4 linked regions of the Homo sapiens genome follow. The protein of the gene in region 3 purifies or fractionates together with the protein of the main gene of each other region. This does not show direct contact. Each region holds a gene or a part of one and is shown on either strand. Other genes may lie near its edges.

The links. Proteins that work in one complex are often made in the same cells at the same time.
Region 1: the proteins of POGLUT1 (region 3) and PON2 purify together in Homo sapiens (affinity purification with mass spectrometry; 3 studies listed by BioGRID and IntAct, with this or other methods). This does not show direct contact.
Region 2: the proteins of POGLUT1 (region 3) and UBR1 purify together in Homo sapiens (co-immunoprecipitation; 2 studies listed by BioGRID and IntAct, with this or other methods). This does not show direct contact.
Region 4: the proteins of POGLUT1 (region 3) and PIGT purify together in Homo sapiens (affinity purification with mass spectrometry; 2 studies listed by BioGRID and IntAct, with this or other methods). This does not show direct contact.

Annotation. Positions count from the first base shown.
Region 1 is NC_000007.14:95,414,529-95,418,028, forward strand, and holds part of PON2 (serum paraoxonase/arylesterase 2), read right to left. Parts: intron 1,770-3,500; coding exon 1,714-1,769; exon of another isoform or gene 1,661-1,713; coding exon of another isoform or gene 1,644-1,660; intron 1-1,643. UniProt on the Homo sapiens protein: Capable of hydrolyzing lactones and a number of aromatic carboxylic acid esters. Has antioxidant activity. Is not associated with high density lipoprotein.
Region 2 is NC_000015.10:43,022,539-43,026,038, forward strand, and holds part of UBR1 (E3 ubiquitin-protein ligase UBR1), read right to left. Parts: intron 2,892-3,500; coding exon 2,843-2,891; intron 2,446-2,842; coding exon 2,291-2,445; intron 264-2,290; coding exon 164-263; intron 1-163. UniProt on the Homo sapiens protein: E3 ubiquitin-protein ligase which is a component of the N-end rule pathway. Recognizes and binds proteins bearing specific N-terminal residues that are destabilizing according to the N-end rule, leading to their ubiquitination and subsequent degradation.
Region 3 is NC_000003.12:119,475,463-119,478,962, forward strand, and holds part of POGLUT1 (protein O-glucosyltransferase 1 precursor), read left to right. Parts: intron 1-1,850; coding exon 1,851-1,986; intron 1,987-2,871; exon of another isoform or gene 2,872-3,012; intron 3,013-3,500. UniProt on the Homo sapiens protein: Dual specificity glycosyltransferase that catalyzes the transfer of glucose and xylose from UDP-glucose and UDP-xylose, respectively, to a serine residue found in the consensus sequence of C-X-S-X-P-C.
Region 4 is NC_000020.11:45,419,141-45,422,640, reverse strand, and holds part of PIGT (GPI-anchor transamidase component PIGT isoform 1 precursor), read right to left. Parts: intron 3,347-3,500; coding exon 3,246-3,346; intron 3,169-3,245; exon of another isoform or gene 3,138-3,168; coding exon 3,051-3,137; intron 2,506-3,050; coding exon 2,418-2,505; intron 2,310-2,417; coding exon 2,212-2,309; intron 2,114-2,211; coding exon 1,948-2,113; intron 1,259-1,947; coding exon 1,058-1,258; intron 1-1,057. UniProt on the Homo sapiens protein: Component of the glycosylphosphatidylinositol-anchor (GPI-anchor) transamidase (GPI-T) complex that catalyzes the formation of the linkage between a proprotein and a GPI-anchor and participates in GPI anchored protein biosynthesis.

The sequences.
Region 1 (3,500 bases), on a different chromosome or scaffold from region 3:
TACTTCAGATTTATTACTATGGGGGCTGGAGAGAAATCTTGAAATAGGTGAATTCTAGATTATAAAAATCTCCAAGAACACATCCTTGCAAAACAACAACAAAAAACACAAATAAACAAATAAAAAAATCAATGCAACTGCCTTCTACTTTATTCAGAATGTTTGCATCTTTACTTATGAATATTTTAGACTAGTGGTCCCAGTGGTTTTTCCTAAGCCACACATGTGCAAGCATGTGCTCCTAAACAAACCCAGAGTCCTACTATAAATATCACTTTATTCATTCTGTGTAGGCAATTAAATAAAACATTCCTTTTAAAACCTTATTTTAAAAACTAAATACATATACTGGTGTTTCTGCTAAAGCCCACAGTATCTCTTTATTGCCTCAGTGGTAATAACCAGCTGCTCACTGTCTTTCACATAAAAACCATCAGGAACCTGAAGAGTGTTCTAATTCTCATTCTACTCCAACCTGAGTTCTCTCACCTTTCTCATAAGTCTAACAACTATTTTATTAGTGTGGTGACTCCCTTCTAAGTATCTCCCAGTATTTCACATCCCTCTTGAGTCTCAGAGCCTGAAAATAATGGATGTTGAGAGGAAATGGAATAATTACAGTCAGGTGTCAGAGTTGGTTACTTCTTCCTCCAGAAAAACTGGACCTATGAAGATGCCAAGAACTCCTATGTCTGCCCAAGCCAGGGAGGTAGGTGGTCAGAACCTCCTCATCTGTCCCCTTATCTGGATTTCCAATTAGAATGGACATTGTTACAAGCTAGTTTCAACAATATTCACAACAATATTCACAAGCCAATTGTTTTTAAAGTCTTTCTATTGTATACCCAGAAAGGATATTGTTTTTCAGCTTACAAGAATCAAGGCAAAATGAAGGGTGTAAATAAACTCAATGACTTTCCACTTATGATTGGCTATTCAGGGGAAAAAAGAAAGAAAGCAAAAGGGCAAGGTTGGTATAATATTTGAAAATAAATAATAATGGCAAGAATATTTGCTTCAAGTTGAATAGTAATAGAAAGATGAGTAGATGCTGTATTTAAAATAGTATAATGTTAGTATTGAGTATCCACAGTAAGACCTCAAATATCCCTCTTAATAGTGCACATTTAAAACACAGATTGCGCTGGGCGTGGTGGCTCACTCCCGTAATGCCAGCACTTTGGGAGGCTGAGGCAGGCGATCACCTGAGGTCAGGTGTTTGAGACCAGCCTGGCCAACACGGCGAAACCCCATCTCTACTAAAAATACAAAAATTAGCCGGGCATGGTGGCGGGCGCCTGTAATCCCAGCTACTCGGGAGGCTGAGGCAAAAGAATTGCTTGAACCCGGGAGGCGGAGGTTGCAGTAAGCTGAGATCATGCCACTGCACTCCAGCCGGGGCAACCAGAACAAGACTCCGTCTCAAAAAATAAAAAAAATTAAAAAAGAAAAAACAAAACAAAACACAGATTGCATTGGAATATTTTAGTGCAATGCAATGGGGAAATAAAGAACACTATCTCAATGGGCAAAGAGTCTTCATCTCTACATTTAGAAAAGCTGGAGGAAGTTTTCCAAGATCTTGTTTGACCTCTCTTTTCTTCAGAATGCATTTTGGAAAATGAATTTTAAAAGCAACTTACTGTTCTGCAGCCCTCATCAAATACCCTTGTATCTCCTCTGCTGAATTTGGGGAAGGAAGAAGACACTCACCACACTAAAAAAAGCCAGACCATTGGGAAGTATGTCAATATCTTCAGAGCCAGCTTCTGTAAGTTTAAGGAACAGATAAATGTCATGTTCAAGTTCTGTTATTTGTTACACAGAGCATAACTGGGACTCTGTTTACTTTATCAGAGTGACTGTATCTTTAGGGATGGTTCTGATGTTTTTTCCAAGGAACCATTCTTTTTAATAAATGTCAGTTTAAACCCCTTCCTGAAGTGAACTTCTGACTTTAAATGTTAGATATTTTATGTTTACTCAAATCAAAGTCAAGTTATCACCACATTTCCAGCTATAATACTGAAAAAGTTGACATCTGTACACTCTCATGATAAACATCCAGATGTCCGTATAAAAGTAATTGACATCAGGGGAATATTACTTTCTGAAGGAAGGGCTCATAGGCATTTAACCATGCAAATATCCTTGTCCTCTTCTTTGCTCATTCAATCTGAAGCAAACAGACATCTTTCTCATTAACAGAGGTAAAACACCTGGGATTATATATTCCTTCTTTTAAAAACAGTGCCTACTTGTGCTCATAAGCAAAGAAAGCTTTTCTATTTAATCTTTAAATTTAGGCTTTAAATTAGAGAAAAAAACTAGCAGAAGAAAATTAATGAAAAATACCATGCACCTAAGCCAGTTGAAGTTTCTAACTCCTGTCTCTGAGGCAGGCTACAATTACTATTGATTGTTTATTGACTGTCTGCAGTACACTCCACACAGCACAGCAAATAATTAGACATAAGACTTTCCCCAGCAGTCTCACTGTATAAATTCTACAGACAGATAATAGACCCAAACACAAGAAAAGAAGAATAAAAATGGCTTAGATTAAGCCAAACCATGACACATTCTTTGAGTCTACAAAATCCAATCTTCCTCTTTAAGACTTCTCCATAGGATTTCTTCAAGGTTATTTCTAGGTTGTCAAAACCAAACAGCATCTATCTATCCAGCCATTTTGGTCTTGCTTCATGAGTTTGCATTTAGCCAGTTGCCTCCAGTGTTGCTTGCTCCATCGTAGTGCAGAAAAACAAAACAAAATAAAAATGCCAAGAACTTCACATTGTAAAGATGACCCATCTGCCTGCTCCTCAGAAAGAAGATACACAGAAATAAGCTTAAGCATGGCATAGCGGAGGAGTTCTCAATCTGGGGTCTGTGGATCACTTTTGGGCTTCAAAGTATCTGTGAACCCTCGGAAATTCTATGCAATGCAAAATGTCTCATGTATGCACAGATGAGAACGTTTCTGTAAAAACGGTCCTTGATTTTCATCAGATTCAAAAAAGAGACTGTGATTCCCCCAAAAAGGTTAAGAATGACTAGACTCTAGTTCCACGGTGGTTGTCCACTGGTAATAAGTTAAGAATCAGGGGAACGCTACACCACATACACATGTATACACAGCACATACACATGTACACACAGACACACACACACACACACACACACACACACACACACCGAGAGAGAATTCTAGTCCAGGTTTTGCTTTTCAGTCCTATTTAGTAGAAGCTCAATTAATTAAAATTTGTTTTTCCTGAAAATTATTTTAGAAAATTTAATTTCCAAGTATACACGTGGAAAAAGAAGATATATAGAAAAAATTAACAATGCTTCTTTGATAGGATTATGAATGATTTTTATTTTTTTCTTTATACTTTGTTTAAAATTTTCTACAAAATTGTATATTTTTTAATAATTAAGGAAAGAGAAATCTTTTTTTAAAAAAATACATTTATTTCAACCATATTGTAACTTCTGTT
Region 2 (3,500 bases), on a different chromosome or scaffold from region 3:
AACTAAGAATGCTAGGAAAAAAATTATTTCAGGGTTACCTATGTTTTAAGGACTGACAGATTAAAACTCTGTAAGATATAAACTTTCAGGATTGACAAATTAAAACTCCTTAAGATCTAGACTTTCAATGACAAATGTGTTGAAGAGTGATACTCAAACATACTTGAAGCCTTATGATAAAAGTCAAATGTTACTTCTTCTTCAGGAGCTTTTTGAAGCTGTTGCTTCTCTTCTAGTAAACCCAATGCCAGAATATGAAAAGCCTGAAGGAGGAAAATAAGAGATCTTTAAAATTGCGCTTCTTCAGGTAAATATATTTTTAATTTAATTTTAATTTTTTTCAGAGACTGGTCTCACTCTGTCACCCAGGTTGGAGTGCAGTGGGGCAATCCTAGCTTACTGCAGCCTTAAGCTCTTGGGCTCAAGTGATCCTCCTGCCTCAGCCTCCTGAGTAGCTGGGGACTAGAGGTGCACACGACCACGCCCAGCTAAATTTTTTTTGGAGGGGGCGGGGGGTATAGACAGCATCTCACTATGTTGGCCAGGCTGGTCTTAAACTCCTGCGCTCAAGTGATCCTCCTGCTTCAGCTTCCCAAAGTGCTGCAATTACAGGTATGGGCCACCATGCCTAGCAAGGTAAATCTATTTTAAGTAGAAGTATAAAAATAAGAAAGCTGATAGGTAAAAAACACGGAAAGGTTTCAGCAGTTCACATTAAGCAGTTTACAGAAAGAGAAATGATGAATACACATATGAAAAATGTTCAACCTGGCCCGGAGCTGGTGGCTCACTTCTGTAATCCCAGCACTTTCGGAGGTTTGGGTGGGTGGATCACCTGAGGTCAGGAGTTCATGACCAGCCTGGTCAACATGGTGAAACCTTGTCTCTACTAAAAATACAAAATTAGCCAGGTGTGGTGGTGGGCATCTGTAATCCCAGCTGCTTGGGAGGCTGAGGCAGGAGAATCGCTTGAACCCAGAGGCGGAAGTTGCAGTGAGCCAAGATTGTGTCACTGCACTCCAGCCTACTCCAGCCTGGGTGACAAGTGAAACTCCATCTCAAAAAAAAAAAAAAAAAAAAAAAAAAAAGTTCAACCTCACTTAAAGAAAAATGAGTTGAAACAAGATCATCCTATTTTTCACCTATTACAGTGGCAAAAATTTTGGTGTTTAGTAAAATATAGAGCTGGCATAGGTATTGGGAAGTAGGCACTTTTGACCATAGTGGTGATGGTAAAGTAAACTGGTATAACATTTTTGGAGGCCAATTTGAAAACATCTATCAAAAATGTAAAGGTATATACCAACTATTAGGAATTAGTATGACAAATACGCTCCCTTAGGTATGCAAAAACATTTGTATAAGAACGTACATTTTATTGTTCTTTGTTACAGCAAAGACCTAGAAACACCTGAATGTCTATTAATAGGAGACTACTGAAACACATTATATCCATACAATGGACTACGCAGCTATCAAGAATAAGTAGATCTATATGCACTAATGTGCAATGATTTCCAGAATATACAAAACTTTAACAATGCTTATGTCCTATATAGCATACTGGGACTCAGGGAGAGAAATTTTAACTTGGTTTCAAACATATCTCTATGGTTTGAAATTTACTAGTGAATGTATTTATCAGTGTTATAATAAAAATTGAGGCACACATATGGCAATGACAGCATTTAGAACCTGTAGACCAACAATACTCAAGGAAAAAGGAACATTTAGTTAGGCAGGTATAAATAAATATGGTGTTACAACTACCATGACGTGGCATAATTAAGTAACGTGTATTTATCTACAACAGTAACAAGGAAAAGTAGCTGCTTTCACTTTAGCTAATTCTCCTACCTCTATGAATAATTACACTTTTATCCATTTTACTAATGAGAAAATTATTATTTGCTCCTTAAATAGGAAGTGGGGAAACCCAAGACTGACGTCTAGACCTATCTTCAAATTTTATTATACTGTCTCCTTATAATTCAAGTAAAATTAAAAATATAAAAAATCATGACACAATAACAACATGTCAATTTATTAGCATAAGTACACCTGTTTTTGTTTTCATGGGTTTTATTAAACAGAAATGGTTCCCAAGAGTAAGGATGCTAAAAACACGAGATCACTAAAAAAAATTTGTGCTGTGTGTAAGCTATTTTTAATGACCCCTATGTTTCCGGTGCTCTAGATGTGGTTCCAACTGAAGTTAGACCTGAGATCTTCCCTAGCTCCCCAAGAACTCTAGGACTTGATGTAGAGAAAATATTTCAGGTAAACAAACCATTTGGAGCATCCCTTCGGTCCACAAGTTAGAATCTGTGTCTATTGCCCGCTCAAATACGGTCCTGAGAATGTACATCATGATATCACAGTTGAGAAGGTTAATCACTTTGCTGAAAGCAGGGCAGAATTCAGGAGGTGGTGGTGGCGGCAATGCTATAGGAGGTGGGGAATGGATGGGGAAAGAGACAAACAGGTACATTTTTATTTGGGTTATCCTACATACTAAAGTGCAAATGTCAAAAAATAATAGGTTACATGCAAAACAACACATGCTTTTTTGCTACCTTTCCAGTACTGAAAATATCAATGTTAAGTGTAATGTAAGTACTATATCAGTCACCCAAAATGAACTACATTTGTTATCAATTTTAAATTCAATCACTACTGATATATACCATATCTTAATATGTGAATAAGAAGCAAAAAGCTCTTTGCACTTCCTTGAGTTGCCCACTCTCAAAAACCAACAACAACAAAAAACTATATGCTTTGCTGATGTGAAACCACAGAAAATAGTCAAAATGAGTCAATTCAGAATCTCACTTTTTACCTTCATCTTTGTTTTCTTGTTTTCTCCTTTTCTTCTGCATATGTTCAGCCTATAAAAAAATCTATCATTAAATATACTGCTTTGGAAGCATGAAACAAATGAAATACATTAAAGCAGTCAGGAAAGACCCAACCACCTATTAAAATACTTTATATACTGAAGCATGTATTCAAAATGCCTCTTTGTCCTAGAAATAAAATTGTGTTCTAGAGAAACCTAATGCAAAATAGATGAGGAATATCCCTGATCAAAAACTTAGTCTCCATTATTTTCTACTGAAAATATTTACCCAGTACCTATTATGCACAGGGTACTATGCTATGGGCTGTAAAGTATTTACTTGATAAGGACAAAGCCAGACATCACCTTAACTAACTGATCAAACTTAACATGATCCTTCATGGGACAAAAAGACGTATGTGCCTAATAATGGGATGCAATATATCATTTACATAGTATTCTTGCCAAAAACTGTTTAAGCTGAATCTATTTGGTACTCTATAGAAATGCCGATGTTACAAAAGAAAAAAATGCAAAAGAATTATCTTCTAAATTAAAGGAAACTATTGGCCGGGCGAGGTGGCTCACGCCTGTAATCCCAGGACGTTGGGAGGCCGAGGTGGGTGGAATCATTTGAGGTCAGGAATTTGAGACCAGC
Region 3 (3,500 bases):
ATGTAGGCTAAATTCCTAAAAGTATAATAACTAGGGCAATTAATGTCATTTTAAAATCTTGATAAATAGGCTGGGTGAGGTGGCTCACGCCTGTTATCCCAGCACTTTGGATGGCTGAGACAGGCAGATCATCTGAGGTCAGGAGTTCAAGACCAGCCTGGCCAACATGGTGAGAACCTATCTCTACTAAAAATAAAAAAATTAGCTGGGCATGGTGGCCTGTGCCTGTAATCCTAGCTACTCGGGAGGCTGAGGCAGGAGAATCACTTGAAACCCGAGGTGGAGGTTGCAGTCAGCTGAGATTGCGCCATTGCACTCCAGCCTGGGCCACAGAGCAAGGCTCCATCTCAAAAAAAAAAAAAAATCTTGATAAACAGGCTGGGCACAGTGGCTCTCACCTGTAATCCCAGCACTTTGGGAGGCTGAGGTGGGAGGATCACTTGAGCCCAAGAGTTCAAGATCAGTCTGGACAACATACCAAGACTGTCTCTCCACACACACACACACACACACACACACACACACACACACAAACACATACAGAGTTGCCAGGTGTGTTGGCACACACCTGTAGTCCCAGCTACTCAGGAGGCTGAGGTGAGAAGATTGCTTGAGCCTAGGATTTTTGAGGCCACAGTGAGCCATGATCATGCCACTGCACTCTTCAGCCTGAGTGGCAGAGCGAGAGACCCTGCCTCAAATAAAAAAAACCTTAAAAAAAGAGAAATCTTGGTAAATAGAATCTAATTGTCCTACAAAGAGGCTAAACACTTCCACAACCGATATATCATATGCTGTGAATAGATCTCACACCCTTACCAACACTGCACTATTGGACTTTTTGATCTTTGCCAATCTGATTGGTAAAATTGGTATCTAGTTTCATTGACATTTCTTTATTATTAATACAGTTGAGCATCTTTTCCTATGTTTGTGAACTGTTGATATTTTTTGCAGTTATCTCCCTATATAAAAAACACTTTTTTTTTTTTTGGCTAGAGGAGCTCACTACATTGCCTACTGTGTCACTATGTTGCTGGTCTAGAACTCTTGGGCTCAAATAACCCTTCTGCCTAAGTCTCCCAAGTAGTAAAACAATATTTTAAATCAGTTATTTCCATGCTGCCAGAAAATTTTGATCAAGCCTTTGAATATTGCCCCTAGCATAGTGCTGGTCAGGACCTCAGAGGATGAGGCAGAAACAAGCTAAACTGTCAGTGTATCTTCTTTTTCTTTCAAGAAATCCCTGATTTCCCAGGGAATCTAGTCAGAAAGCTGTGTTACACTATTTATGATTATGTATATAACACTTTTTCTGGCTTGCAGAACTGATTTTGATAATGTTCTTTATTCAGGTTGAAGGTAATGAAAGGTTTTCTATCTGTTCTCATAAACTAGGAGACTTAATTATAATGGAAATAAAAATGGTGTCTTTGTGAGGAGCAAAGCCAAAGGAACACAGGTGGAAAATTAGCTATTTCAGCTATTACGAGAGTTTGTATCTTGTCTACTAATTAAACTATTCCATATAAGGGAAATAAAGAAAAGAACTGGAATGAATAAAGTGGTAGAAGTAGCAATAATACTCCCTTCAAAGCTATGACGATTTATTTGGAAAATTTTATTAAGTATTGTAAGCTGGAGCAGCTTAGCTATGAGTGAACTTGCACAATACAAAAAAGCAGAATAGCCCCTTTAGAAGCATTGTTTTCAGGAGACTTTGCAGTAGACTGATGATATGGAACACTGGAACACTGGCTTGTCTTACTTTAAAATGTGAATGGGACCTCGCCTTGTCCTAGAGCCTGCAGGCACTACTCTGCTGAATTTATGGTATGTCTGGTTGACAGGTGTAGTGGTGTTGAGCACTTTATTTTGGAAGTGATCGGGCGTCTCCCTGACATGGAGATGGTGATCAATGTACGAGATTATCCTCAGGTTCCTAAATGGATGGAGCCTGCCATCCCAGTCTTCTCCTTCAGTAAGGTAAGTACAGGGAGAGCCACATGGGTGGATGGAGAGTGGTCCTCTAGGATATGAGCATGAGATCTTTGTCCGGTGACATAGTCTGATGGATAATGGTAAGGATGAGGACTGAGGTCCAGAAATGGGTCTGTGTCTCTATTAGCATCACAGTGATTGAGCAAAAAGACAGAGGAGATGAAGTTGAGAGCTGGTAAGTAGTGTAAGATTGCTTGAGTGTCTATAGGGCTAGAGATGGAGGCTAGGGCGTGAGAGGCCTGAGAAACCTACAGGAATTAGAGGTGGGTCTTGAAGATCTTACAGAGCATGGGAGGAAGGGGTCCAAGAAAGCTTGGAGTTAGGGAACACCTTCATTCCAAAAGTTTGTTGAGCTCCTACTATGTATATATTCAGCCATAGTGCTGGGTATCAGCTGTCCCATCTGTCACCATATTCCGGGGGCCCAGGGTGGCTAAAAGTGAACCTGAAGGTGCCAGATAACTCCACACGGTGTGTGTACAAGCCGTGCATTGAAGGGATAGGCTGGAGATAGCCTAGAGGGCTATGCAAGGGGGTGATCTTTTAGACTCATCATGGAAGATTGGAGTAGCTAGGATACACCTGTGGGCTTGGGGAATTGGGGGCAAGGAATGTCTTGTCAGTGCTCAGGTTCATGTAAATGTTGTATCGGCAGGGATGGGCCTTGGTTCCCTAGAGACAAGGAAAGCATTTGGGGGTGAAGGCAGGAAGGCTAGAAGAGAGTGGATGGAAGATTCTATGGGGTAAGAGTGAATTGAGGAAAACCCCATGAAATTTGGGAAAAGGAACACTATTTCTGATTTGGTTTGTCTAAAGCAGAGGGACCTTTTATCCCCACTTTTTCTTTATCATAGTTTACTTTCTCCCTAGACTTGTTTTATTTCCTGTGTTGCAAGTGGGCAGAGGCCACATTTGTGTTGCATTTCCCATGGTCTAGCCTCATTTCTCGAAAGTGTTTGGTTCCATTGTTTGTCATGAAACTCACTCAGAAGAACAGATAGAGGCTCCCATGTAAGTCAGTAGGGACTTCGTGTTTGTTATCTATCTGTTGTTTCTATGGATAATAAAGTATGACCGTCGGTATACTAACTTTCCGTTCATCTTTACTTCCCTTCTGTTTTTTAAATCAGTGACTTCTAGTTTCCAAGGGAGAGTTTTACTCTGTCAACTTTATAGTTAATTGTGCAGCTTCTATTGAATAGCTGTTATGTTTAAGGTGCTTGATGAATCACATTTTTTACATATTTGAGAGACAGCAAACAGCATATTGCACATGTATTTCCAGTGGAAGAAATAGTAGAGTTAGAGGTTTATCAGTGGCCAGATTTTTAACAGAAGTAACCATAAAAAGGGAACAAATGGAGGCCAGGTGTAGTGGCTCACACCTGTAATCCCAGCACTTTGGGAGGCCGAGGCAGGTGGATCAAAAAAAAAAAAAAAAGGGGGGAACATATGGCTTTAAACTTTTTTCTTTTTTTTGAGGCAGAGTCTCACTCTGT
Region 4 (3,500 bases), on a different chromosome or scaffold from region 3:
TGTGCAACATAACAAGACCCTGCCTCTGTGAAAAAATTAAAGGCATGGCGGTTCATGCCTGTAGTCCTAGGGAAGCGGAGGTAGGAGGATTGCTTGAGCCGAGCAGTCTGAGACTGCAATGAGCCATGATCATGCCACTGCACTCCGGCATAGCTGACAGAGCAACAGTCTGTCTCTTAAAAAAAAAAAAAAAAGGCTGCAGGGTGTGTACAGGGGATTATTACACTATTCTGTTTGGGTTTGGGTTTGAAATTTTCCAAAGGAGAAGATTTAAAAGAATAATAACAGAAAAACCTATAGAATATGCAGTTAGGATGTCTGAAATAGAGATTTTGAAGGTGGTACAAATAATGGTGCTGAAAATAAGTGAAACTATTCACCGTATGTTTGAAAATATAGGAATCAACTAAAGTACTGAAAGGTTTTTAAGTTTGGCCGTTTGGGATATGGTACAACCTCTTCCTCAGAGGTCTTTTACTTTACTACTAGTCTCCCCCTACACCAAAGAAAGGCAAGTGCTTTAGTGCTATGCCTGGCACCTAATAGGAAGCACTAATATTATCTTCTCCTTAGAAAAATAATAGAAAATAAAAATAAATTTTAATAAAAATAGAAATAAAAAAATTTAATTAACTGTACCTCTTTACCCCTCCCAAGGAAGCAAAACACCATCTACTCCAGCTCTGCTATCTTCCTAGCTTCAAAAGCCTAACGTTGCCAAACCCTTTCCCTACCTTAAAGAGTCTATGAATCATCACAAAACCCAATGCTCCAGAAAGGAGGCAAAAGTAAGTGAAAAAGGAAGCTACTGTCCTTGTACAGTCCTATTAAGAATCACCAGTATTATGTGTTTTAATTATTGCTGTTTTATAAATTACTTCTGAACCTGGCACAGTGAGGCTCCCGTTCCAGTTTTGAGAAACTATTCCTTACTCTTTATGCCTGTGTAGCTTTTCAGAGGTACTTCAGGAACTACCCTGGGAAATGAGAGTTTGGGGGACCTGGAGAGGACATGAGAGGGCGGGCTGGGGGCCTGGTTCAGGACTCAGGTCCTCACTTGGTTTGTTCTCCTTGCCCTTGGAGGTGATGGTGAGGGTGTGCACATACAGCCGCAGATACCAGGGTACGGTGTCCAGCAGCAGCACCGGGAAGGCCCGGTATGGGTGGGTGTTGTACAGCAGTGTGCTCAGCTCCCCCTTCTGCAGCCCATAGCCACTCACGTACCGCTGGGCATGCAGGAAGGGCACTGGGGGGGCCTCTGTGTAAAGAAATATCAACAGTTAACAGCTGCCAAAGGTAAGAATCACTCCCCACCCCACCTGCCCAGGCCATGTTCAGAGTCCCAAGCCAGTGAGTAGATGGGGAACAGCCCTGCCACTGAAACTGGGCAATCTGGGTTCTGGAATCATCCCTGTCTTCCCCAGCCAACAAGCGATGATGACAATAGGTTGCTAGTATTGAAGTGCTTACGTGACGAACACCGTGCCCCCTTCGAACCCAATCCAGGTCCTCTCAGGATATTCTGCTCTTTCCCTTGGTAAGGGAACTGAACACAACTGTAATTAATTAACTGACACCTGCCCTAGCTAGTAGACTTATATTTCTTGAGTGCAGTGTCCTCTGTCTTATTCAACACTCTATGCCTGGCACTTAGTATGAATTCAAAAGTATTTGGTTGATTAAGCAAATGCATGAACTAACTCCATTTTTCACATCATCTCATCCAATTTGCTAAGTATACTCTATTTTTCAGATGTGGATGCTGAAGCTTGGGGAGTTTAGGAACCTACCCAAAATCGTAGAGCTTGGAATAGCTACAGTCAGCAGCATATGACTCTGGAAATCTGGTCTAAATACAACCCAATCATCTAACGGCAAAGACGTGGGATTGTGAGTCTTTTCTCTGTAGCCGTTGCAACCCAGCAGTCCAACCAACCACCCACTCACCATTCTCTGGGGGTCTCTTCCACTTGAGCTGGATGTTGAGGTTTCGAGAGTTGTTGATCATGGCGGTGTCAAGCAAGTCATAGATGGCATAGGTCTTCCGAGTGCCTAGGATGACGTCCTGATATGTAGTGGTCGGGGGTGGGTGCACCTCTAATGTCTCGTTGTCCTGGGGACACAAAGGCAGGGCTAAGAAGCAAGCAGAGAGGGTAGGCTGGTCCTGGGGACCAGCGGTGTGTTTGTGTGTGTGGCTGGAGACCTTGTTACCTGGTTGTAGGTGGTGATGTCCACATAGACTCGGCTCTCTGAAGCCAGGGGGCAGGGCTCCGTGAGGGTTCGGGAGAACATCCGGAAGAGGGACCAGTCTGAGAAACAGAGCGCAGGGCTGAGCAGGGGCCAGGCCTAGGCCTAGTCCACATAGATAAGGCAGGGCTGGCATGGGTGGGTACAGATGAGTTGCCAAGGTAACTTACCTTTCTTTCCCTGCCCCGTGATGAAGGCATCAAATACAACTGACAGGGTCTGCCTCAGCTCCCAGGAGATGCTAGTACAGCGTGCATTCTATCACAAGGGCCAGATGGCAGCAGTGAGGGGGTATCACTCTCACCACACAGCCCCCAAAAAGACTCCTACTCAGACTCAATCCCTCATCTATGTATCTTCACATCCATCGATTTGCTACCACCCACTCCTGAGCACTTGACCTCGTGCCAGACCCCGTGCTGACAGCTGTATGTGCATCAGTTTGATAAACTATCACAACAACCCTAGGAGTGGATTCTACTATCAATGTCATGTGGCAGGGTGGGAAACCAAGCTCAGGGGAATGAAATGATTCACCCAAGGTTACGCCAGCTGGCAAGTGACTGAGCTAGCAATTGCACCCGCATAGCTATTGTTCTGAACCACTATTTTCCATGACAAATATTTATTCAGTGCTTGCTAGGCAACCACTGTTTTCTTGGTGCTTGGCCAATGCCCTGAATAACCGTCATCACATCTACCACTCAGTACTCACTCAGCCTGAGCCAGACACTGACCACATGCTTTACATGTACCTTCTCTGAGCCCCTGGATGGCAGCTTCCTCTACTCCCCATGACTTACTCTGCAAACAGGGCGGATATGCACTGCCTGGGAGTGGTAGCTGGTGTGGAACAAGCGATCTGCCTTCAGCAGCACAGAGAGGCCTGCCTGGAGGAGATGGAAAGAGATAAGAGAAGCCCTGTATGGAGCACTTGGCATGGGGCGCAGGTTCTCTATACACCCCCCGCCCCCGGCTGCCAGGCTCTGCGGCCTCACCTTGGAACTACAGGGCAAGAGCTTCTTCCAGGGGGTGAGGTTTTCGGTGCAGACCACCTCCCGCGGCAGCACAGCATAGCGCAGAAAGTAGTGGTCAGTGTCTGAGGGAGACAGAGGTCTGTCTGGGGTGGGCCTTGGGCTCTGACCCCTCGGGATCCACATTCCAGAGATGGGAATGACCCTCCTGCTCCCCACACCACCTCTAGCACCACAGTCTGGACAGTCCCAACTGGGAGTAGGACTCCCTTCTCTCCT